Homo sapiens: one gene and its partners. The protein of the gene in region 1 purifies or fractionates together with the protein of each later gene. This does not show direct contact. Each region holds a gene or a part of one and is shown on either strand. Other genes may lie near its edges.

The links.
Region 2: the proteins of MYH10 (region 1) and OCRL purify together in Homo sapiens (co-immunoprecipitation; one large-scale study listed by IntAct). This does not show direct contact.
Region 3: the proteins of MYH10 (region 1) and POC5 purify together in Homo sapiens (co-immunoprecipitation; one large-scale study listed by IntAct). This does not show direct contact.
Region 4: the proteins of MYH10 (region 1) and MAP3K3 purify together in Homo sapiens (tandem affinity purification; one large-scale study listed by IntAct). This does not show direct contact.
Region 5: the proteins of MYH10 (region 1) and LLGL1 purify together in Homo sapiens (co-immunoprecipitation; one study listed by IntAct). This does not show direct contact.
Region 6: the proteins of MYH10 (region 1) and DCTN4 fractionate together in Homo sapiens (co-fractionation; one large-scale study listed by BioGRID). This does not show direct contact.
Region 7: the proteins of MYH10 (region 1) and GOLGA4 fractionate together in Homo sapiens (co-fractionation; one large-scale study listed by BioGRID). This does not show direct contact.

The regions. Positions count from the first base shown.
Region 1 is NC_000017.11:8,508,726-8,512,225, forward strand, and holds part of MYH10 (myosin-10), read right to left. Parts: intron 2,461-3,500; exon of another isoform or gene 2,401-2,460; intron 1,225-2,400; coding exon 1,087-1,224; intron 364-1,086; exon of another isoform or gene 26-363; intron 1-25. UniProt on the Homo sapiens protein: Cellular myosin that appears to play a role in cytokinesis, cell shape, and specialized functions such as secretion and capping. Involved with LARP6 in the stabilization of type I collagen mRNAs for CO1A1 and CO1A2.
Region 2 is NC_000023.11:129,585,259-129,588,758, reverse strand, and holds part of OCRL (inositol polyphosphate 5-phosphatase OCRL), read right to left. Parts: intron 1,758-3,500; coding exon 1,641-1,757; intron 581-1,640; coding exon 496-580; intron 1-495. UniProt on the Homo sapiens protein: Catalyzes the hydrolysis of the 5-position phosphate of phosphatidylinositol 4,5-bisphosphate (PtdIns(4,5)P2) and phosphatidylinositol-3,4,5-bisphosphate (PtdIns(3,4,5)P3), with the greatest catalytic activity towards PtdIns(4,5)P2.
Region 3 is NC_000005.10:75,686,438-75,689,937, forward strand, and holds part of POC5 (centrosomal protein POC5), read right to left. Parts: intron 2,729-3,500; coding exon 2,575-2,728; intron 892-2,574; coding exon of another isoform or gene 773-891; exon of another isoform or gene 511-772; intron 1-510. UniProt on the Homo sapiens protein: Essential for the assembly of the distal half of centrioles, required for centriole elongation. Acts as a negative regulator of centriole elongation.
Region 4 is NC_000017.11:63,628,917-63,632,416, reverse strand, and holds part of MAP3K3 (mitogen-activated protein kinase kinase kinase 3), read right to left. Parts: intron 1-3,500. UniProt on the Homo sapiens protein: Component of a protein kinase signal transduction cascade. Mediates activation of the NF-kappa-B, AP1 and DDIT3 transcriptional regulators.
Region 5 is NC_000017.11:18,235,635-18,239,134, reverse strand, and holds part of LLGL1 (lethal(2) giant larvae protein homolog 1), read right to left. Parts: intron 2,529-3,500; coding exon 2,375-2,528; intron 2,301-2,374; coding exon 2,196-2,300; intron 1,655-2,195; coding exon 1,362-1,654; intron 1,069-1,361; coding exon 921-1,068; intron 680-920; coding exon 526-679; intron 1-525. UniProt on the Homo sapiens protein: Cortical cytoskeleton protein found in a complex involved in maintaining cell polarity and epithelial integrity. Involved in the regulation of mitotic spindle orientation, proliferation, differentiation and tissue organization of neuroepithelial cells.
Region 6 is NC_000005.10:150,749,018-150,752,517, forward strand, and holds part of DCTN4 (dynactin subunit 4), read right to left. Parts: intron 1-3,500. UniProt on the Homo sapiens protein: Part of the dynactin complex that activates the molecular motor dynein for ultra-processive transport along microtubules.
Region 7 is NC_000003.12:37,295,271-37,298,770, reverse strand, and holds part of GOLGA4 (golgin subfamily A member 4), read right to left. Parts: intron 2,685-3,500; coding exon 2,552-2,684; intron 1-2,551. UniProt on the Homo sapiens protein: Involved in vesicular trafficking at the Golgi apparatus level. May play a role in delivery of transport vesicles containing GPI-linked proteins from the trans-Golgi network through its interaction with MACF1. Involved in endosome-to-Golgi trafficking.

The DNA of each region.
Region 1 (3,500 bases):
CTTGGGTTCTGTATTCCTCATAAAGGTCAACTTTGACTCGAGAGAAAATAAGTTCTATCGGCACTGCCTCCCCCAGCAGACTGTACACAATCACATGCTGCAGAACGATGTTTTGGACAATGATGAACCGGATACACGACAGTGGTCTCCTAAGATGATCATGGAGCTGAAAACTTCATCGAGAGCTGTCATAACACCACAGTGCAATTACTCTATTTTTAAAATAAATGTACTGCAGCCTCAGTGTGCCATGTTGATAAAGTCTGCAGTCATGTACAGCAATGTCCTAGGCCTTCACATTCACTCAGCGCTCACTCACTGACTCACCCAGAGCAGCTTCCAGTCCTGCAAGCTCCGTTCATGGTGAGTGCCCAATAGAGGTGTGCCATTTTAAATCTTTTCTATCATTTTTACCGTACCTTTTCTATCATATTTTTACTGGACTTTTGTGTGGATATGTTTAGATACACAAGTACTTATTAGCACTGTGTTCCAACTGCCTACAGTATTCAGGACAGTAACATGCTGTACAAGTGTGTGGCCTAGATGCAATCAGCCCAGCGTCTGGTCTAGGTGTATAGCAGGCTCTACCATCTAGTTTGTGTCCATACACTCTATGATGTTTGTACGAGGATAAAATAACTTCACAATGCATTTCCCAGAATGTGTCCTCATCGTTAAACAACACACGACTGTACTCCAAAAGGGCAGAAAGGCTTACACGTCTTGGTGCCCACCCCGGGAGCTTGGCCCAGCTGCCTGGTATTCAGAGTCCCACAGTCAATGGTGGATGAATTAATGCTTGCACAGATGGAGACAAGTCATCATTGAGTGACCATTATGCACAAACTGCACATGTTACAAGTCTAAAAGATTATCAGGATATTTGATAAGGTTTAAAAAATTCAATGGTGCCTGTATCTTTAGAAATCTATACAAGTAGAGACTTACAGAGAAAATTCAGTAAATGAACCTAAAATCTTGAGAAATTTCTGTTTGAGTTCACTTTCAATGAGTGTATCAACATAATATTATATAAATATTTTCTGTAACTAAAATCAGCTTTTTGTGGGAACACTCTCTTACTTTGATGAACTTGGAATTTTGGTCCTCGAGAAGCAGAATCTCCTCTTCCATCTTCTTGATCTTGGCCTCTGCTGTCACCTTTTCCAGCTGCAGCTTTTGCCGAGCCCCTTCCTCCTCGTCTAGCTGTTCTTCCAGGTCCTTGTGAAGAACACACAGTCAGTCTCGCCACTTTCTCGAGATTTGACCACACATTCATTGTGCACAGGAATGCATTACAATGAGATACTAATTTTTTTTTTTTTTTTGACACGGAGTCTCGCTCTGTTGCCCAGGCTGAAGTGCAGTGGTGCCACCTCGGCTCGCTGCAACCTCCACCTCCTGGGTTCACGCCATTCTCCTGCCTCAGCCTCCCGAGTAGCTGGGACTACAGGTGCCCGCCACCACGCCCGGCTAATTTTTTGATTTTTTTTTTGGTAGAGATGGGGTTTCACCATGTTAGCCAGGATGGTCTTGATCTCCTGACCTCATGATCCATCCGCCTCAGCCTAGATACTAATTTTTGATTCTCAAAATGCCAAGGATATTTAAAAAAATATGAAATGCAGTTATGTGAAATAGACATTTGTATCCGCTACAGGCTAAAGTACAAACTGGGTCAATCCTTCTAGAAGCCAACATGGCAAAACATAGCTTTAAAAATGAGCCTTTCCTTTCAACCAGCAATTTCAGGAAATTGTCACAGATGCAATTTATATAAAAAGACATACAGTGATAAGTTATTTATAATATTGAGTAACTATGAACATGCTACAAAAAGGTCTTGGTAATTAAATGTTGGCACATTTGTTAAATGGAATAATATATAGTAATTAAAATTCACATTTTGGAATAATAGCAACACAGACAAACATGAATAATGTAGTAGCACTCATCAAATGTGTATTTAATTTAGCTGAATCCAACTATATACATGTTCGGCCAAAGAAGAGAGAAAGAGAACATGAAAACAATAATTTAAATAGTACAGGTCGTGAGAAATGAGCTGTCTCAGTTCAAGTGTACCTTTCACAGCAGAAGCACCTCATCAAACTGGGCGGGAGCATAGAGTTTACATGTATTTTTATTAGAACGTGCAGATCTTTATAATCTACATTACTGTTTATGATAAACATGCTATTACACAGGATCACAGATAGATTACCCCATTTTATATGAGGTGATTATTACACACTACATGCCTGTATCAAAACATCTCATGTACCCCATATATATATATATATATATATATATATATATATATATATATATACACACATACATACATACACACACACACACTTAATATATACGCATAAAAATTAAAATTAAAAACAAAGTGTTACAGCTCTTTTAGAATTTGTCTAGCAGGATTTCTGGTTTCTGGTGGAAAGCTCCCATCCCCTCCAAAAAACGAAATTAAAAAAAAAGTTAAACAAAACAAAACCCAGGCTGGGCGCAGTGGCTCACGCCTGTAGTCCTAGCACTTTGGGAGGCCGAGGTGGGTGGATCACCTGAGGTCAAGAGTTCGAGACCAGCCTGGCCAACGTGGTGAAACCTCGTCTCTACTAAAAATACAAAAATTAGCTGGGCGTGGTAGCAGGCGCCTGTAATCCCAGCTACTGGGGAGGCTGAGGCAAGGGAATCACTTGAACCGAGGAGGTGGAGGTTGCAGTGAGCCGAGATTGCGCCATTGCACTCCAGCCTGGGCAACAAAGCGAGACTCCGTCTCAAAAACAGAACAAAAAAACAAAAACAAAAACAAACCCCAAAAAACCAAAACTAGGGTTGTACAAATCAACACATGGCCAACTTAAGGAAATGTTCAAGAGTAACTTCGGCTAAATAATTTACTCATCGTTAATTTTAGAATGAAACCATGGCAAAAAATGAGTGTTTTCTTGTAAAAATTTCAAACACACATACAAGCACACAGACCAGCATAATAAGCCCCACACAGAAGCATCACCTTGACCTTAACAAGCATCAACTCATGGTCAATTCCATTTCATGTGTGCCTCCACCTGCTCCCTTCTCCCCCTAGGTTATTTTGAAGCAAATCCCAGACATCATATTTCACTTGTAAAACCTTCAGGCTGTACCTCTAAAATATAAAGACCATTTAAAAAGCACATTTGTCTGTTTCAATCACAATCCAAAAATTGTGCCTCATGAGTACAGCCTGTATTTCAAAAAGAAAGTTAAGTACCAGGGAAGGGCTAATTTTTAAAAATTCTCATTCTGACTGTTGGCCACCTCCTATGTCAGTGCTGAGCGTTTCTTATTAGCCAAACCACGTAGTAGATGTCTATCTAATGAATGGAGTGAGCAACAGAATCACTGACAACATGAAGAACAAGTTAGGTCTTCTACAGAATGCTATAGATCCTGGGAGGTTTGCGACTGTGAATCTCTTTGCAAACTGTAAGATGCCACTT
Region 2 (3,500 bases), on another chromosome or scaffold:
TGGGGGTTTGATATTTTATTGATTCAAGTGCCCTGCAGGTGAGTTGTTACAGAATTGGTCAAAGACTCTTGGCAGCTTTGGCCCAGCTTCAGGGTCAGGGGAATATAGCCTGCAGAGTGACAGTTGACACTGGAGCAGTCCTATAAACCAGGTGCCCATGTTTCCCATCCTTCTCCCTGCCCTGTCAACAGTACGTGTGGTGGCAGGAGTGACTGATCACCTGAAGGAGAATAGTACCAGTGCTGTGGCTTCTATGTCCCATGCTTTTAAGTCATTGTTATCTACCCCTTGCTTCCTTTTAGTAAGAGCTGGATATGGAAAGAGGTCAAAAGTTCCTGAAAGGAAATGAGAAACAAGTGGATAGTCAGTGGTTATCTTATAATAAAAGATATTACAAAGAAAATAAATATAGAACCACAAAAATCAAATATAGGTGCGAAGAAGAGTTTGATCAAGTACTCATCCAGCTTCTTAAGCTTTGGTCGCAAAGGATACGGATTGTCTCAGGAATGCTGGTATCCAGACAATCAATGATCTGCTGGAGCTCTTCCTGCATTCCAGGGGTCTGGAACAGGTCCTCCTACCAAAGAAGTCAGAATGAAGGGACAGGCAAGATAATCACTCCTGAGGTTATGATGATTACCCAAGGATCAGAAGAGCAGCAGGAAGCAAAAGGGAAGGGTGGTATGTGTGTTAATAATTACAAATGGAGGTGTGAAAATAACACATTTTTCCTTTAGCATTTCTCTAATCCATGTGAAATGTTATTTCAAATAGGAAAATGATCTTTTCAAAGGTTTTAGCCTGTACCTAATAAGGCAGGGGACTAGATGGCTAGAGCAGGAAACCAGGTGTTCTAATTCTAGCCTCCTTTAAAATTTTTTTTTATAGAGATGGGGTTTCACCGTGTTGCCCAGGCTGGTCTCAAACTCCTGAGCTCAAGCAATGCGCCCGTCTCTGCCTCCCAAAATGCTGGGATTACAGGCATGAGCCACCATGCCTGGCCTACTTGTAGCCTCTTGACAAGCAGCAGAAGGCAGAGTCCAAACAGAATAACCACATTCAAATGCTAGTACTACTGAACGCTGGGGAAGGAGGAAATCGCATGCTCATACTAAACCTTGCTTTCAAGTTACATTATTCGTCAGTAGGTAAGAGAACATTACCTTTCAATTTAGTCCCAAGAAATATCTCTTTTGGGGGCGAATGAGGTGGGGTGGCATTTTAGTTAGGATTTAAAAGAAAAATTAGGACCAAGTTAAAAAATGGGTTTAAAATCTGCTTTGGATTTTACAATCTCTAATGCCTACATGACTCATAGCCAAAGTAGGCATTATAGACTCAGGTGTGCAGCTGTCCAGGGAAAATGAGAGGGTAGCCAGGAGACAGGTGCTCTTAATTTGGTCCTGGCTCTGCCACAACTACACTTAGGCCTTTGTCTTAGTAAATAACTTACCTTTACATGCTTCAGCTGTGACATCTGTGACTAGGACACTTCCACCCACCCAGTCGATCTGACAGTGCCACTGTGTGCAGGTAGCTTGGGAAAGTTAAAAGCGCTATGCTGACGTGAGGTGTTGTGATTTCCTATAGTAGTTACACACCTTCCAAAGTTGTAGGGAAGGTCTACTCTCACTTACCTGGTGACAGGCGTATTTGAATAGGTGATCTACTAGAAGCCAGATCTCCTTGGGAACCTGAAGGGGTCTCTCACTGGCACCTTCATCCAAAGGAACCATTTGCAGAAGGGATTTCTCCTAATAGATGGAAAAGTATGAGAATCAAAGGGGTCTCAGAATAAAGACTTTGGTGTATAACTTAAAGTCCTTCAAATTCTGGTCATGCAGGTAAAATGTGATCTTCATCTCTTAAGATTTTCCATTTCTTCTCACTGGGGACACTCCTGGTCAGAAGGCACTTGATAGCGAGTCCCATAGTTAAAGGATGTCCTTTCCTAAATGCTTCACTTAATTGTTCTGCATTTCATTTGCGTTTATGATGTTTATTACGTGGATGCCTTGTGTTTAAATCCTTTCAAAGGTGACACTGAGAACCAGTGCTCCGGTGATACAGTCACAGTGGAGTCCATACAGCACTGGTGACTTGGGGACTATTAAATTACAATTGTCAATACAGTAGTTTGAGAGATCAAGGTCTACACTTAGGTTTTTGTTTATTTCTAACTTACTCTTCCTTCAGGTCTTACCACAGATACTGTTGTTTGTTTTCAATGTTGATTTAAATTAGCTTCTTTAGTTTTCAGGAATTAAAGACAACTCTCCACAACATTAGACCCACATATGTAAATACTTCAGGCTTGATGGAAGTTCTAATCTTAAGGTGCTAAAACTCGTAAGCCTTAAGGTCCAAAAATAGTAAACTGAATACAGCTAACCAAGAGGCAGAAATACCACGAAAAGTTTAAGGTCTGAGTCCAGAAGTTACAGTTTCTAGGAATAGCTCAGCCAAGATTTCTAGGGGCTTTTACTCCTTTCATCTATCTTTCTACTATCTGTTATATTCTTCTGAAAGAATTTTGTAAGAGAAAAACCCAGAAGTGACATAAATCAAATCAATCACTATATGTGAATTGGAAATGGCTAGGAAATAAACTCAGTTATCTTAGGTTCATGTAATCAAATATAAATTACATGAAAAAATGTTTGAAATAGTAAAGGCACCTGAAGGCACCCTTCATAAAAATCCCAGTGGAGAGAACCATGACCAATTTTTTTGCATCCTCCTCCCTCCCCCGCCTCTAGCTTGAGGTCATATATATTCTGTATGTTTAACTAAGAAATTCTTGCCTAACATTGTGCAACTTGTGAATTCCATCCACAACCCCCAGTCACGTAGCTTTAAAAGAAAAAAAAAGGAGCATGTCACTACTTTGACAGAGACCACATACACTACAGCCGAGCTGAGGTCTCTTCTTAACATTGTGTTCTTTAACAAGCACTGATGACCTTTAAAAGCTGCTGTGCCTTTCCAAGGGAATAAGAAAGAGAAGGGAGTGTGACAGTTGGTTACCATTTAAAATCTTTCTTTTTTTTCCCCACATTCAGTTTGCTTCCTTTCTTTCCCTGGGATTCTATCACTTGATATTCATGTTCCTAATAGTTGCCAGAATGTCTATCAATGGCTCATCCATTTACTTCTTTCCAGTTACAAATATCAAATCCAAGCATCCACATGGTATTTGAGACAAAACACTGTCCATCATGCACTCTGCTAACTCTCTGGACCAAATGCAGCACGTGTACTGATTCTTTAGCAGATGCCTCCAAACTTGCCATATAGAAATTATGCAGCACTGATTCATGTACTTTTTAAAAAGTCTGACATCCAACTGGAGCTTTTCCTGTACTAAGGCATTAAGGCAACACAAGGCACTGCCTAAGATAAAAAGACAGAACATGGACTGCTCTTAACAGGGAAGAGCTAGGAAGCACAGCTGTCTCAAACCTTGGTGGTTTAAAAAGGTTAATAAAGTGTCAGTA
Region 3 (3,500 bases), on another chromosome or scaffold:
TCTGTATAGAAAATTTGCAGAGTATTAGTTAGTTAGCTTATTTAAGAAGTTTAACAATGATTACAGTGCCTACCTAGATCCTTTGAACTCCTCTGATGAAAGGGACTAATTCAATATAAAATACTTTTAATTTGAAAACAAAACACACACTGAGTTTTAACTTGTTTTGGTAGAGATTCTGAGTGTCTATCTTTAGATGGTGGCAGACATTAGGAGATGTAGAAACAGTATGAAGGTCAGGGAAGAGAGGCAGGTGATCAACTCTTGCTAATATAGGCTGATATCAGATAACTCTTAAGTTTAATAATTAATCTCATTTTAGCTGGAATAAATTTTTCACTTGTCAAGTATTTTTTTTTACTGTGCCTAATTGGCACAGTAAAATTGGCAGATATAATTTTAAGGACTTTTTGTCATGTTCTAACTTCTTCATAAAAACCTCTAATTTGTAAGATTTAAGATACTGCACAACATGAGAGGTACTGCAAATTACAGACAGCAAAGAATCGGTACAAATAAAAAACCAAATATTTATTTTGCTCTAACAAGACAGATGCATTAGGAACTTTACATTATTAAAAACTGCATTATAAAAAACAATTTTTTTTTTTGTGAGATAGTCTCGCTCTGTCGCCCAGGCTGAAGTGCAGTGGCATGATCTCAGCTCACTGCAACCTCTGCCTCCTGGGTTCACGCCATTCTTCTGCCTCAGCCTCCTGAGTAGCTGGGACTACAGGTGCCTGCCACCACGCCCGGCTAATTTTTTGTATTTTTAGTAGAGACGGGATTTCACCATGTTAGCCAGGATCGTCTCGATCTCCTGACCTCGTGATCCACTCACCTCGGCCTCCCAAAGTGCTGGGATTACAGGTGTGAGCGACCGCGCCTGGCCTATAAAAAACAGTTGTTTTAATAGAAGGGGGCCAAAAGTAATTTTTTTTTCTTATGAGAACTAAAAAAAATAGGTGTCATTAAAATGTCATAAAACCTAAATATCACAAAGCAGATCCACTGAATTATACTGAACTTTTTTGCCTTTGGTAGCTCTACCAACATTATTGCTAATGCATGCTTTACCATTCTTGTCATCTTTCTCATCGATTGTTTCAAAAGTAACAGGAGCAAAAGAAATCATGTTGTGTAATTAGCAGAAGACATTTTCTTCAAATCCTCTTATGGATATTGGCCTTTAGGAGACACAGTTGCATTTCAATTTACATTTTAAGATGGTAAATGTATTAAGGTGGGAAATACTCCTAAGTCAATTCAAAATCTTTTTAAGTAGGTTATAAGAAACAGGTTTCTTGTAATTTAATGTAAGAAGTTCTAATAGGAATTTGTCACTTTACTTGTGAAACTCATATTTCTCCCAAGTAAACAATTAAATTTCTCAATTTGTGACACACAACTTGCTGATACTTAGAACTGAAACAGACTATTCTATCATTGAAGGTGGTGAGTTTGTTTTCAACCCTGATACTCAAATAAAAGACCATTTATTGGAAAAATCAAGTACTCACCTAGGTATTACCAAAATAAACTATTCAGCCTTGAGATTCCATGATTCTCAGTTTCTAAATTAAATATGGCCCACAAACCACAACCACTTCAGATAGAAAGCAATTTGCCTAAACTTACTCCTATCCACAATATGCATGCTTTAAATAATAAATGTTTGTTGATGTTTTAAAATAAGGGCATCACAAGCACAGAGAAGTTATTCATTGGATTGAAATCATGTTAATCATTTACAAAATCTTGAGACGTTGACTTGAATTAAAACTATTAATAATTACATCATGACTATCATCTTACACGTTAAAGTGCATTTTGTCTTTTAAAGTGTTTTCAGATATGTTTTACTGCATCCCACAAGAAGCCCCTAGGAAGCAGGTAAGGAAGGTTTATATTATCTCCTTCGCTCAGAGAAGAAATCTAAGGCCGAATGAGGAAAACAGGCCCCTGGGTAAATTGGTGGCAAAGGATTCTAGTTATGGGCTTTTCTACGCCATGCTGACAAAACTACTACACAAACCACTCTTATGTCAGACAATATGTGGATTTTTAAAAAAAATAAAATTACTTCTATAGATAGGTCTATATTTATGTTTGCTGCAATGAGCTTAGTTGAGGCCTTTCATAAACAGGAAGATTAGGAATTTCTAAAATGAGAAACCATGACTAGATAACAAATACTTACCAAAATAGTCCAAAATATTTGGCTACTTAAGAAAAGACAAAATTAGAAGTTTTGTACTTAAAAAGGCATTAAAATTCTTAGTTAAAAGAGATTTAAAATAATGCTATACATTAAAATATTATTTTCAACATTTAGCTTAAATACTTAGGAGTGACAGTGTACTTGATCAGATCTAAGATACCATAAGTAACCATGACTGAGCTCATTTTCATGGCAGATTTAAGTCTGGATATGACACCATAGAATTAAGAATAGCAGCACCTGGATGAAACATACCTACTGCAGATTATTTGTACTGTAGACCATACCAATCACCAAAATCTCCTCAAATCTTTTTTTGAAATTAGGCAGAGAAACTTTAATGAAATACTAACCTGCATCATTTCTGTTTTGAAATATAGTCATGGCTTCAAGATTTAATGCACATACACCCCTCATGAAAGCTTTTTTCATGGAATCTTCAAAGTGCTCTTTTTCATGTTGCATTCTTTGAATCTCAGCTTTTGCATTTTCCAAAGCTCCAGATAACTAAAATAAGAATGTTTAAAAAGCAAAACAATTTGAGATACAAAGAAGAATACTGTCAAAAAAATAGATATATACTTTGAGATTATTCTCATGTGAAATATTAAAAAGTTTGTCACTTACCTCTTCTGCTATGTGCAATTTATTTTAAAAGGTACCTCTTACCTCTATTATCTCCATCAACAAAATGCTTTCATTCCTAACCTTAAAATCAAGGTTCAAACAAGGGGAATTTTATCCAGTCCCATTGAATATTGCTGATGTATTTTCATTTCACAAAAAGATACACCATTTTTTACTGTAAAACTTTTATGTAGGATGTTAAACAAAATACATTAAGAGCCACAGACAGCCCTTTCAGAAAAAAATAAAATAAACTACATGCCTGCAATATTAACAGAATTTTTATAATGTAAATGTTACCTTCAGTATTTGAAGTGCAGAGTGACCCTAGGTACAACACACTTTCCCATAGGCCAAACCTCAGGGGACTGCATTTTTTGCATGTCGTAGTGAACTGCAGAAAATTATTTGTATTATGGATTTATTTTTAATCTTAACAATTTAATGCTGTAATGAGTTATTTTTTCATTTTAATATTTAACTTCAAGAGGCCTATTGCATTCTTTAGAATGGATTTTATTTCATTTCAATTCCAAATGTTTTCCCATGAAAACAATGTTAATTTTATTATTAAAAGTCAATGGGAAAAAATAATTTCAATTTCTTTTTTTCTTTTTTGAGATGGATTTCTGCTCTTGTTGCCTAGGTTGGA
Region 4 (3,500 bases), about 55 Mb from region 1:
GGGCTCAAGTGACCTTCCCACATCAGCCTCCTGAGTAGCTGGGAACACAGGCATGCACCACCATGCCTGGATGATTTTTTTATTTTTTGTAGAGACGGGGTCTCCCCATGTTGCCCAGGCTGGTCTCCAACTCCTGGACTCCAGTGATCCTCCTGCCTCGGCCTCCCAAAGTGCTAAGATTACATACAGGTGTGGGCCACCATGCCTGGCCTTTAATGGTTTCTTAATAGCCCTCCAATCAGATTTCCTGCAGCAATATTTACCAATTCATTGCAGGGAAGGGACACGCTCAAACAGGGCAGTTGGTCCAGTGCCAGAGAAACTTAACCAGGAAAAATAGATGAAAAATTGAAGTGAAGAACACAGTACAATGTAATATGGTACTGAATGAAAAGATGAATCCATAGAGAGAGGATTATGGCACAGTGTCAGTCCCAGACTTATTCTTAAAGCATCATAAGGAGGAGAGCACACTTTAAAAGGTACCAAATAAGGGCCTCAGGTAACTGCTTTGAACAGAAGTTGTTTTACAAGCCTAGCATTTGAATGCCGCCACCACCAGCAACCCCCACAACTCTTTACAAGTTTATAGGCCTACTACTTCCCATGGGGAAGTCAAAGGGTAGTTCTATTGTTTTTCCTCCCTAAGCTGACCAAGCAATGCATTGTCTCCACCTTACTGGCATTACTTTTAATCCCCTTTTCTTGAAATAGCATGGAGTACTAGAGTTCTCATACATTGAAAACAACTGGCCAAAACCCAGAACACAAACCAGTCCAATTCCATGTTGTACAAATTTTTCCCAGGTCCTTTAAGAGATCTTTGCCCATTCAAATAGCATTTGGAGATTGAAAATGAATAAATCTGTTGATCGTGAAGGGAACATGAGGGATGAGTTGTTACACTTGCTTTGGTGACAACTGAGCCATTTGGGGACTTGGGGCACACCTTAAAAGAAGCAAATACAAAAGATTCCACCCAAAGAGAGTGCCTATCTTCTACCCTTTATCACTGTCCCTTGGAAATATTCTAATACCCTGTGGAAAGAAACGAACAGCATGAAATGTAGGAAGTAAAACTGCTCAAGTCTCTTCTCCCACTACTGATTAACTGATTGACTGACTGACTGAAACAGGGTTTCACTCTGTTGCCCAGGCTAGAGTGCAGTGGTGCAATCACAGCTCACTGCAGCCTCCTCCACCCCCAGGCTCAAACAATCCTCCACCTCAGCCTCCAGAGTAGCTGGGACTACAGGTGCACACCACCATGCCCTGCTAATTTTTGTATTTTTTATTGAGCGAGGGTTTCACCATGTTGCCCAGGCTGATTTCAAACACCTGAGCTCAAGCGATCCTCCCTCCTTAGCCTCCCAAAATGCTGGGATTACAGACATAAGCCACCGTGCCTGGCCCCTCACCTTATTTGCCTCTCCCCTCTTCCTAGACGAAATCTGCTCTGGTGCCCTATATGCCCTCTGACGAGGTACAGAAAAGGACAAAGTTGCCTATAAAGAGGTTTTTGCTTGTTCAGGAAAGTAAAATTAGATTTAAAACTTGCAGGAAAACCACCAGGAGCATAACTTCCCATATGATTCCACTTCAAAACATATACAAAAGTATGTATGAGAGTGACATAGCTGTAATATAGAAAGCATGCAGTAAAGGGGATAATGAATGAGGAGAAAGTGGGTATCTACAAAAAGACATCTGTCAAATTAACACATATATATCCCATCAATTATTTTATACCTTCTACAATTTCCCTATAGCTTCTTTAAAGAAGGGAACCTGGCTGGACAGGGTGGCTCATGCCTGTAATCCCAGCACTTTGGGAGGCTGAGGCAGGTGGATTGCTTGAGCCCAGGAGTTCGAGACCAGACTGGGCAACATGGCAAAACTACATTCTACAAAAAATACAAAAAATTAGCTGGGCATGGTGGTGCACGCTGTAGGCTCAGCTACTTGAGAGGCTTAGGTGGAAGGATCACTTGAGCCCAGGAGGTTGAGGCTGCAGTGAGCCATGATCATGCCACTGTACTTCAGCCTGGGCGACAGTGAGACCCTGTCCCAAAAACAAAAAGGGAACTTGGTTTTTTGTTTTGATTTTTATCCTCACAACCAAACTTTAAAAACTAGAGCATAACATCTAAGCTAGGAAGATTGGCTTATATATAATATGTATAGGTTTATATATTAAATGGCTTAGATATTATTAAATATATATAAAATTGGGCCAACTGTAATAATAAATTGGGATCAATACAAGGAGGATTATGACTAGGTTTAAGTGTTTTCTGAGGAGCATCCAACAATACTCCTAAAAGCGGAATGCAAGGAGTTATCAGTAACAACATTAACCACCCTAAGTATTGAGAATTTTCAGTTCTTTCAACTCAGATATTGAACAAAGATGGATGTGAATACACATACAGGCACACACATACACACACCACTTTTCAAGTCAGATCCACAAGTATGACTGAAGAAATCATTTCTAATTCTGTATAAGATGACGCTATTATAAGAGCTGGTTTATCAGGTTGACAAATTCTGTTTCCAGGAAGCTAACCAATTCCTGGCATTACTTAATGAACAAACTTGTTTAGTAGTTCCAGAGCTGAGAACACACTAGTGGAAAAGTTTGGCACTGTCATCTGAAATCTGGGACAACTGACACAAGTGAATCAGGGTTATAGAATCTAATTTTGTGTCAAAGTAAAATACATTCCTAGAGGTAGACAGGTTCTTCAACTGATACTTCAGAGGACATGTATAAAGACAGGAAGTAAATCAAGTGGCTCTTTTAGGCATTTCTTCCTGGATTGAGGTTTTGTTTTTGTTTTTTTTCCTTCTAAAAAGCAACATCACTATGCACACTTGGCTGCCACAAGCCAGTTATCTCTGTGGTATGGACTGAGACTAACTGAATTATCAGCACTCCTCCAATGTGGCATTCTTTAAAAACAAACAAAACTTTTAAAAACAAATAACAGGCTGGGCGCAGAGGCTCACGCCTGTAATTCTAGCACTTTGGGAGGCCAAGATGCGTGGATCACTTGAGGTCAGGAGTTCGAAACCAGCCTGGCCAACATGGTGAAACCCCGTCTCTACTAAAAATACAAAAAAATTAACTGCGCGTGGTGGTGTGCGCCTGTAATCCCAGCTACTTGGGAGGCTGAGGCAGGAGAATTGCCTGAACACAGGAGGCGGAGGTTGGTGTGAGCTGAGATAGCGCTACTGAACTCCAGCATGGCGACAGGGCGAGACTCCATCTCAAAAAAAAAAACAACAAATAACAACTTTCTTAGACTGAAGCAGTTAGGAATATGAACTTCAGAGTCAGAAAAATTTGGTAAGGAGGCCCTGAGCAAATCATTTATTCTCTCCAAACCTCAATTTCCTCATCTGTAAAATGGAGATAAAGCATCATTTCACAAAGCTGCTGTGGGAGTTAAAAGCAACAGAAAACCTACGAATTATTTCTTATGGTACCTAACACA
Region 5 (3,500 bases), 9.7 Mb from region 1:
CTCCTGGCTCAGATCTGAGAGGCCCACCCAGCTCACTCAAAAATCCTTTACCATCCAGCTCCCCCAGAGAGACTGGGGGTGACCCAGCAGTCCCCCTGGGAGAGCTGGATGGTAAGCTTTTTTTCTGAGAAGGTCTCACTCTGTTGCACAGGCTGGAGTGCAGTGGTACGATCTCGGCTCACTGCAACCTCCGCCTCCCACGTTCAAGCAATTCTCCTGCCTCAGCCTCCCAAGTAGCTGGGATTACAGGCGCCCGCCACCACACCTGGCTAATTTTTGTATTTTTAGTAGAGACGAGGTTTCACCATGTTGGCCTGGCGGGTCTCAAACTCCTGACCTCAGGTGATCCGCCCACCTCGGCCTCCCAAAGTGCTGGGATCACTCACAGGCTTGAGCCACCGTGCCCAGCCACCTCCTGGAAGGTGCAGTCCCACCACCTCCCTTGCCACCACCCATCTCCCAGGTGGCCAATTGAGGCCAGCCCCCCCAACCCTTGCCCTGTCCCTGCCCCTGCCCCTGCCTTACCATCTCGAAGGAATGTGTCGGCAAAGTATAGGCAACGCACGACACCCGACAAGGAGTCATCGGCAGAGCGGGGCTCAATGCGGCGCTGCACGGGCGTCATCTCCACGTCGTGGGGGCAGGCCTGCTCAGCCAGCTGTGCATTGGCTTCCTGCAACTGCCGGGCGGGGGCTCCTGAACACTGTCTCCCTAGCACCCCAGTGGCTTGCATCCTGCTTTGCGCCCTACGTTCTGTTACCATTCCTCTACCACCCAGCTTAGTTCACCCATCCCTCTGGAGGGCCCAGGGGCTGCCGAGGGAGGAGCACTGAGCTAAGCAGGCCCCAGGGGTCCCAGGCCAGAGCCAGGCCAAGGCACAGGACACAGGCACAGCTCCTGTGCAGCCCACCCCAGCTCACCTTGCTGCTGGCATTAGCAGCCCGCTTCTTGCCAGAGACACGACTCTTGCGAATGCGCCGGAAAGACTGGCGCAGTGACTTCTTGAGAGACTTCACCCGGGAGAGCGGACCCTCCATGGCCAGGGAGTCATTGGGGTGAAGAGTGCACCTGGGGGAAGACAGGGTCCAGTCGTGCTATAGAGCAGCCTCCTGGGGCAGCCACCACACTCCTGCTGGCCTGTGGAGGCACCCAGGTCAGGGAGTCACAGCCCCTCTGGCGCAGTCCTATGGACCCAGCTGCAGGTGGTACTGAGAATGTCCTTCTTGGAGCTGCCAGGTTATTTCTTATAGGGCAATGGAGGTTAGTGGCCTTTGCCACACCAAACACTAGAGGTGGAAACGGAAGCCCAGACCCCATCTCGCTGGGGGCTCCAACTGCCCAGCCGGCCCCACCCCACACACCTGGCCAGCACAGGGCTCTTGCGCTGGTAGTCGAAGAGGCCAAAGCCATGACTGGTGCCAAAAGCCACGAGGCTCCACTCGGTGTGGAGTGTGACAGCGGTTACAGCAGCTGGCGGCAGGCACTGCACCAGGACACGGGGCTGGAAGCCAGCAGGCCAGGGCAGCGGCCCCGTGCGTGGGCTCAGCCGCTCGTGGCCCTTCCATGTGAAGCCCTCGCGGTCCTGGAGGAGGTCTATGATGGCCACGCTGACCGCCTGCTCCACCGGCACATCACTAAGCTCCAGTACCAGCACCTGAGCCCACAGCCAGGCAGGGGGAGCATCAGCGCAGGGGAGGGGCCGCCCTGGGCCCCACTCAGCCTGGAGCCTCTGAAGCAGCCCCAGCCACCACCAAGGTGGTTCTAGGACTGTCTTCAGTTCATCAGCTAAACAAGCACTCACTGAATGCCTACTGTATACCAAGGCCCTGGCTGAGCACAAGGAACACAGTGGTGACCAAGACACACTAGTCCCTGCCCTCTGAGGGCAAAGTGTCCACCCTTACCCTGAGCCTCTATCTCCCATTTAGCAATAAGGACACATTGAGCACCTCCTGTATGTCATGTGAGTGCCGGAGCACAGCACTGACATGAGTTCCCTCCTCTCAACACTGTGGTTCCCCCAGCGACAGGCCCACTTCCCATCTGTCCTCACCCCAGCCAGCCCCACCCAGAGCCCTATTCCCACCTTGGCTTTTGCCTGTGCCAGTCCATCTCCCTTTCCACCAGACCCTCCAGCTCATCTCTTCCAGAAAGCCCTCCCTGACATCTCCAACCCAGGGGACACCCAGCCCTACCTGGCCTGCAGTGCCAGCCACCACCATCTGGGCTGTATACTTGCAGAGAGCAACCTTCTGCACGCCAAGCCGGGGATCGTCACTGTAGGGATCGAAGCAGCCCACCTAGAGGGATGGGAAGGAGTAATGAGTCCAGGCGGGGTCAGGACCAGCTCATCAGGGCCAGGGGAGGGGCCCACCTTGCGGAAGGGTGGCCAGTCGTCCTCGGCAGCCTGGGCCAGGCTGTCAGCGTGCTCACAGTCTGTCTGGAAGAGGCCAGCTGTGCTCAGCTTATAGAGCGGCCGCAGCGCCACACCCGAGGCATCCCAGAACCTCACGGTGCCGTCCTCATGGCTGCAGGGAGGGCAGATGTCAGGGCTACCCGAGTTCCTGGGAGGCCTGCACGCCCCTCCATTCACTCATCTGATAACCACTCACTAAGCACCTACTGCACGTGCCAAACACTGACCGGAATCCTACTTTTACAAAAAACAATAGGCACCTACTGTAGACAGCACAGGTACACTGTGCACCTGTTATAGGCCAGGCCACATGCACCATATGCACCTGGAGCCTTTAAACCAAACAAGGTGGAAATGACCACCCTGATTAACAGGAGGTGGCAAAGGGGGACATGTAGAGAACAGAGGACTTTGGGGGTTCTGCCTGCACTGGAGCAGCCATCAGAGGTGATCAAGAGTAAGGCAGTCACAGAACAGAGCATGGGGCATCCCGGGGGAGGAGCTGCATGGGGCCCAAGGCAGCCACGTAGGTGGAGGAGCAGGAAGACTACAGAGGCCGGGAGAAAGCAGGGAGGGGGCAGGGGAAGGAGTAGACAAATCTAGGGCGCAGCCTTGGGACACAGCTGCAGAGTCCAAGCAGGGCCCCAGGCGGTGGTGAAAGCCCAGAGCCAGGGCGTGAGAGGTGTGTGACTGTGGGGGTGGTTGAGACTCATTCCAGCAGCCCTGAAAGCCACGGCAAGCTCTTCAGCAGGGAAGGGCACACCAGAGTCAGAGGCCTGAGGGTCCCAGCACAGGCGGGAGTGGGGGCAGGGCAGGAAGTTGAGACCTGAGTCACTGGGCACGTCAGCGCCCGCCAGGCCCACGCTGGGCTCTCTGGCACCTTCCCTGGGCAGCTCAGCGTGGGCCAGCCCAGATTTTCCAGTCCCAGGGCAGGCAGGCTGGGCGGGTGGAGCCCTGGGGTTTGGTAGAGCTCAGTTCCAGGCCAAAAGGCAGATCAGGGCAGCACCTTGAACCAAGGTCCAGGGAGGTTTCATTCCAAACCACCTTGGGCAAGGAGGAACTACCTGGTCCCACCAGGGGCCAG
Region 6 (3,500 bases), on another chromosome or scaffold:
TGGGTAGATCTTAGTGACACTGGGTTAGGCTAAAGTTTTTTTAATAGGACACAAAAAACACAAACTATAAAATAAAAAAATTGGTAAATTAGACTTCACTGAAATTAGAAACTTGAGTTCTTCAACACACACTGCTGAGAAAAGGAAAAGGCAAGGCACAGACTGGGAGTAAATATTTGCAAAACATATATTCAACAATGGACTTGTATCCAGAATATAGAACTCTTATAACTCAGTTTAAAAAACCAAATCAAAACAAACCAACAACAACAAAACCCAGTTAAAAAGTAGGGAAAAGATTTGTACAGACAGTTCACCAAAGATATATGGCTGGTAAACAAACACAATGAGAAAATGCAAATTAAAACCACAGTGAAGTACTGCTGTACATGTGCTAGAATGGCTAAAATGGGTAAGACTGACAATATGGCAAGGGTTGTCAAGGGATTGGAACTCTCCTAATTTGCTGGGGAGGATCCAAAATTGTTCAGTCACTTTGGAAAACAGTTGGGCATTGGCCAGGTGCAGTGGTTCATGCTTTTAATCCCAGCACTTTGGGAGGCTGAGGCAGGAGAACTGCTAGAGTCCAGGAGTTGGAGACCAGCCTGGGTAACATGGAGAAACCCCATCTCTACTTTAAAAAATAAAAAAAAATAAAAATAGTTTGGCAGCTTCTAGACAAATTAAACATACACTTATCCTATGACCTAATAATTTCACTCTTTGGCACTTAAGAAAAATGAAAACATATATTCACACAAAGAGTTATAGGCAAATGTTCATAGCACCTTTATTCACATAAGCCAAAACCCAAAAACAATCCAAATGTTCAAGTGGAGAATGAATAAACAAACATGTTCATACAACAGAATACTACTCAACAATAAGAAGAAATAATATAAAGAAGAAACACAGATGAACCTCAATAGCATTATGCTAAATAAAAGAAGACAGACAGGAAAGACTGTAATGTAAGACTCCAATTACATACACTTCTAGAAAAGGCAAAATTCTAGTGATAGAAAGCATATCAGTCTAGTCAGGGGCCGGGAGGTTGGGGGAAGAAACTGACTGCAATGGGGCATGAGGATTCTCTAGGGGGACAGAAATGTTGTGTATCATGATTATGGTGGTGGCTATGTGATTACACACTTGTCAAACATCACAGAATTCTACACTTAAAATTGGTAAGCTTTATTATATATAAATTATATATTGGTAAAGCTAGCCAAATAAAGGGAAAAATAAAAGTATAATGAGATACCATTTCACAACCATCAGTCTGGAAAAATTTTAGAGTCCAAAAGTACTAAGAGCTGACAAGGAACTGGAGCTACAGGTAGTTTACTCTTACATATTACTACTAGGAGCAAAGACTGCTAAATCATTTTGGAGTGCTAAGGATGTACACAACTTATGACTGGCAATTTTACTTCTAGTTATATAGAAAAGTCCTTACACTTGTGCCTTAGGAAACACATACAAGATTGCTTCCAGCAGCTATATTTTTTCAAAAGCAAAGAAAATGAAAACAACCTAAATGTTCATTAAGAGAAGACGGAATAAGTAAACTGTGGTGAGTCATACAGGAATCAACTGTGTATCAGAAACATAATGCTGATAGAGTAAAGTTGTAGCAGGATATATACAGTATGTTTTCATTTGCTTAAAAGTGAAAAATGTTATTTGTTTGTGGCTGCATACATATGTGGAGAAGTATAAAGACATGTATGGATGCTAATAAACACTGAATTCAGGATTGTGATTATTATCTCTAGCGGGCAGAGAGGAAGATAAAGTAGGGGGAGGGCTTAAACTGTTTTGGCTGTTTCATTTCTTAAACTGGGTGATAAGTACATGAATATACATATTTCATATAAAATCACTTTTTTCAAAACAAAAAGGACGCAATTACCTTGCTGAAGGTGACATTGTATCCTCTTGCAAGAAATGGCAGAAATAACACTTTAGTATAATATTATTTTAGAAGTTGCCTCACTTAAGGCAATCATGAAAAATAATTATGTGAAAGAAATGTTTCAGCTGTAATATTTTTAAACGTCTGAATATTTTATCTAATTGCTTCTTTTGAACTGGTAATTTATTCTAAGTAGCAATTTGGGAGACATAATAATCTCATTGTAAGTTTTTCTCCGTACATTACAGACAAGTACTTATAAATAAACAAATAGTTCTAACTTAAGTGGTTTCAGGGCTTCTGAGATACCAATGACATCAAGGAGGAAATGAAATTATCTGTACGCTTTAAGAGCTCCTGGTATTCAATTATCCCTGTTGAGATACCCTAGAGGAGATACAGTTCTAGAAGCCAGCATAAGTTTATAGTTCTGAAATATAAATTCTCCAATCTTCATGACTCATAAACCAAAAAGCATAAAACACTCACTAACAGAGTAACAAACTGAGAAATCTACTTGGATTTCCGGGCTGTTTCTTTTACTTGATAAAAAGACACAAAATACAAACATGAAAAAACAATACTTTAGTTCACTGAGGCCTACATTATGCCACTTTGAGGTTGCTTTTTAACATTTAACTTACTTTCTTTAACTTATCTCCTATACTGACACTAAAACATATACACATAAATACTTACTGGCAATTTTCAAAGATGTTACAGAATCTTTCTATTTTCAGTCACACTTCAGGTAAATAGCTACCCACCAATGAGCATTTTTAAGGAACTAAGATATACTTATTTAACTTTCTGTTTTTGAAAAGAGTATGTATTTTATCAACTCAATGTACAAAGTCAGAAAAACCATCAACAGCTCAAAGCATTCTAAACCAAAGAGCAAATTCAATAGAATCAAGGATTAAATTTTTAAGAACATAGTTGAATCTAAAGAACTTCACCCATATTTACTTCCAAATTGTGTAAGAATCTATAGAAAGGTTTTAGCCAGTCTGCTTCATTTTAGTTATGTCAAATGACATATAATGAATTTGTTATGAGCTTCCTCATTTATTAGTCAATAAGCTGTACTTTTTATGAAAATCCCAAAATGAGAATTTTTACAAGTTTAAAATGTTTTTAGAAAATTAAACAATGAAACCTCAGAAAAAAAAATACGGAGTTAGTGATGCTACTACTTATATAAAGCATAAATAGCAACTCAAGATTTTATTAATTTTTTTTAAACTTTGGATCACTTAAATCAAAAGCAACTCAAGATTTTGAACTGACTGTACAGAGAATGTTTCCACTCTATGATGTTAACCATGAAATACAGAATTTGCAAAAATAAAGTTTCGTGATAAAATTAAGTGTAATCTGTTCTAAAACACTCAAACACTCAAATGATGGAGGTATATAATGCCTTAGGTGGTCTTAAATCCAAACATACCAATTTTTCTCTTTCACTGATAAACATTTTATATATATACGTAAAAGTTTTTGAGCACATGTTTGAATGCTCCAGGACAGACATTTGGACATTGAATTACTGGGCAGAAGGATATAAGCAATTTAAAATTTT
Region 7 (3,500 bases), on another chromosome or scaffold:
TTATGACTGAGACAGTCAAAGAGATCTAATCTAACCGACTCCATCTTGGTTCTAACCTTTAAGCTGTCATTGTTCGTTCCTGGGTGTAGGCTGAACTAACTTTGGGAGAACTTAGTTTATAGTTTATAGTCTAAAACAAAGACAATAAAAGCCATTTCCCAAACAAACCCCCTTCTTGCCTGGAGACTAGATTGCCTTTGTAGGACTAACAAATTAGCCAAAAGATTAGAAATTATCATTTAGGAGTCATGCAGCTGAAGGCTACAAGATTCTGACCACCACTAAACTGCTCCTAATATCACTGCTTGAGATATTTTGCAGACCCTGCACTTGATGGATCAGCTGGCAACACCCAGATCGATAAATTGGCTCATCTGATCTTGTGGCTCCCACCCAGGAAGTGACTCAGCACAAGAAGACAGCTTTGATTCCCTATGATATCATCTCTGACCTGACCAATCAGCACTCCTGGCTCACTGGCTTCCTCCCACCCACTAAATTGTTCTTAAAAACTCGGATCCGTGAATGCTTGGCGAGACTGATTTGAGTAAAATAAAACTCTGGTCACGTGCACACTCGGCTCTGCGTGAATTACTCTTTCTCTACTGCAATTCCCCTATCTTGATAAATCAGCTCTGTCTAGGCAGTGGGCAAGGTGAACCCTTTGGGCGGTTACAAATATAAGGACACTTCCAGGAACAGTCTGTTACTACACAGGTGTGTATTCCCTCTTTTTTTTTTTGAGACGGAGCCTCGCTTTGCCGCCCAGACTGGAGTGCAGTGGCATGATCTCGGCTCACTGCAACCTCCACCTCCCTGGTTCAAGCAATTCCCCTGCCTCAACCTCCCAAGTAGCTGGGATTACAGGCGCACACCACCACGTCTCGCTAACTTGTTTGTATTTTTAGTAGAGGTGGGGTTTCACCATGTTGGCCAGACTAGTCTCGAACTCCTGACCTCAGGCAATCCGCCTGCTTCAGCCTCCCAAAGTGTTGGGATTACAGGTGAGAGCCACCACGCCCCACCAGGAGTGTATTCTTACACCAATATTCTGCTATACTCTTAGATGAAGAAGGGACAACCCTAGTCAGCTAATAAACTGGCACCCTTCCAAACCTCTACTTAGTATTAGTTGTTTAATCTTTATCTGAAGAAGCTTAGTAGTAATTCACCTCTTTGAGGTTCAACCCCATTCAGAATGGCACAGTAGTTAACTAACATTAACTGAATCCACCCTCCTTAAAATGACAGTTTGATAATCATCTTTTGTTATTCAAAATTATGTGTCTTAGCTCACCTCCCAAAAGGATTAATAAAGTACGGTATTCTTTCCAACCACATTCTAATCTCTTTCTGAGAGGAGTTCTGGTAAGTGCAACTTTCTCCATCTCTTTACATTTATGAGTCTGAAGTTTCCACATGTCTGGGAATTTCGGGACTGGCCCCGCCGCCCCACCACCCCACCATAGTCTGGTTGCTCAGATAGTTAACTGCTCAACTACTTACTCCAAGTTTATCATAAGTCCCTTTGAAAGAAAAAGCTAGGAAATAAAAGACGGGAATTTTATTGCGTATATACCTCAAGCCTCAAAGCAAAGAAGGCTGTAACTGAATTTTAAGACAAAATATAGCTATTTCTTCTTTTTCCAGTTAAAAAGCAATTAATAGGACAAATACAAATATCTATGAATATAGAACTATTTAAGCAATATTTAAAAACTAAAATATCCAAACAATTACAAATAGCCCACTTATTAGCATGTAAGCAGAACTGACCTGTTCATATGAAATCTAGCTACTGCTATTAATAAAACAGTGTAGCATAATAAATGAATTTCAATTACAATGAAAATGTGGTGTTACAGACTATGAAATTTTTGCATATTAAAACAACTTTTTTGGTTGGGCACAGTGACTCACACCTGTAATCCCAATACTTTGGGAGGCTGAGGCAGGTAGATTACTTGAGATTAGGAGTTCGAGACCAGCCTGGCCAACATAGTGAAAGCCCGTCTCTACTGAAAATACAAAAATTAGCCGGGCATGGTGGTGTGTGCCTGTAATCCCAGCTACTCGGGAGGCTGAGGCAGGAGAATCGCTTGAACCCAGGAGATGGAGGTTGCAGTGAGCCGAGATCATGCTACTGCACTCCAGCCTAGGCAATAGAGTGAGACACCATCTCAAACTAACAAGCAAACAAAAAACACTTATTTTCTCCTAAATAACAACAAAGAACCAAAAAAACAAAACAAACCCTTGCATCTTTCTGAAACTATTAGGACCACGGACACTTCTACCTCAGCCCATATCTATCAGCTCACATCCTGGAATCTCTCAAAATCCTCCTCTAGGTTTTCTTGGGGTTTCATTTTTGTTTTTGTTTTTCTTGTGGAGAAGGGTTTTCTCTATGTTGCCCAGGCTGGTCTCAAACTCCTGAACTCAAGCGATCCTCCCACACTGGCCTCCCAAAGTGTTGGGATTAAAGGTGTAAGCCAAGGAGCCTGGCTCTCCTCTAGTTTTTAAATTAACCTTTTGACAAAATGAAGCTTACCTACTGGCTCTCCATCACTTTCTGGATTCTCTTCTTTAGTGAAGACTTCAGCCTGTGGTTCCAGCTGAGGAAGTGGTTTCAGTACATCAACATTCATCGGGCCATTTCGTAATCGTTGTTTCAGTAGAGAAACCTAATATAAATGTGCTTCATTAGAAAAAAGTCAAAAAAAACTATGGGAGTAGTACAATTGTCCCTTGGTATCTGTGGGGGATTGGTTCCAGGATTCCCTGTTAATACCAAAATCCGCAGGAGCTCAAGTCCATTATATAAAATGGTGTAGTATTTGCATATAGCCTACACACATCCTCCAGTATAATTTAAATCATCCCTAGATTACATAAACTACCTAAATAATGAAAATGCTATGCAAGTAGTTGTTGTACTACATATATTTTAGAAAATAATGAGAAGAAAAAAAGTCTACATGTTCACTACACATGGTTTTCACCCCCTAAATATTTCTGATCCAGTTGGTTGAATCCACACATACAAAAACACATCAATGTGGATGGCTTATTGTACTTTATTTAAAACAGAGAGAGGACGGATTAAATGATATTCTTCTTACTAAAGTGGGGGAAAATAATCAAAATAAAAAGTTTACTCCCAATACAGCTGGTTTTTATATTTGCTATTATTATTATGCAGTTAGTCAAAAGATACAATAAATAAAAAAGTATCCTTAACATTAACTGAAGAGCTAGGAGTGGTGGCTCATGCCTATAATCCCAACACTTTGGGAGGCCAAGGCGGAAGGATCGCTTGAGCCCAGGGGTTTGAGACCAGCCTGGGCGACATAGTGAGACCCCATCTCTACAAAAAATTTAAAAATTAGCTGGGCGTGGTGGCATATGCCTGTATTCCCAGCCACTCTGGAGGCAGAGGCTGGAGGATTGCTAGAGCCCAGGAATTTGAGATTGCAGTTAAGCTATGATCACGCCACTGC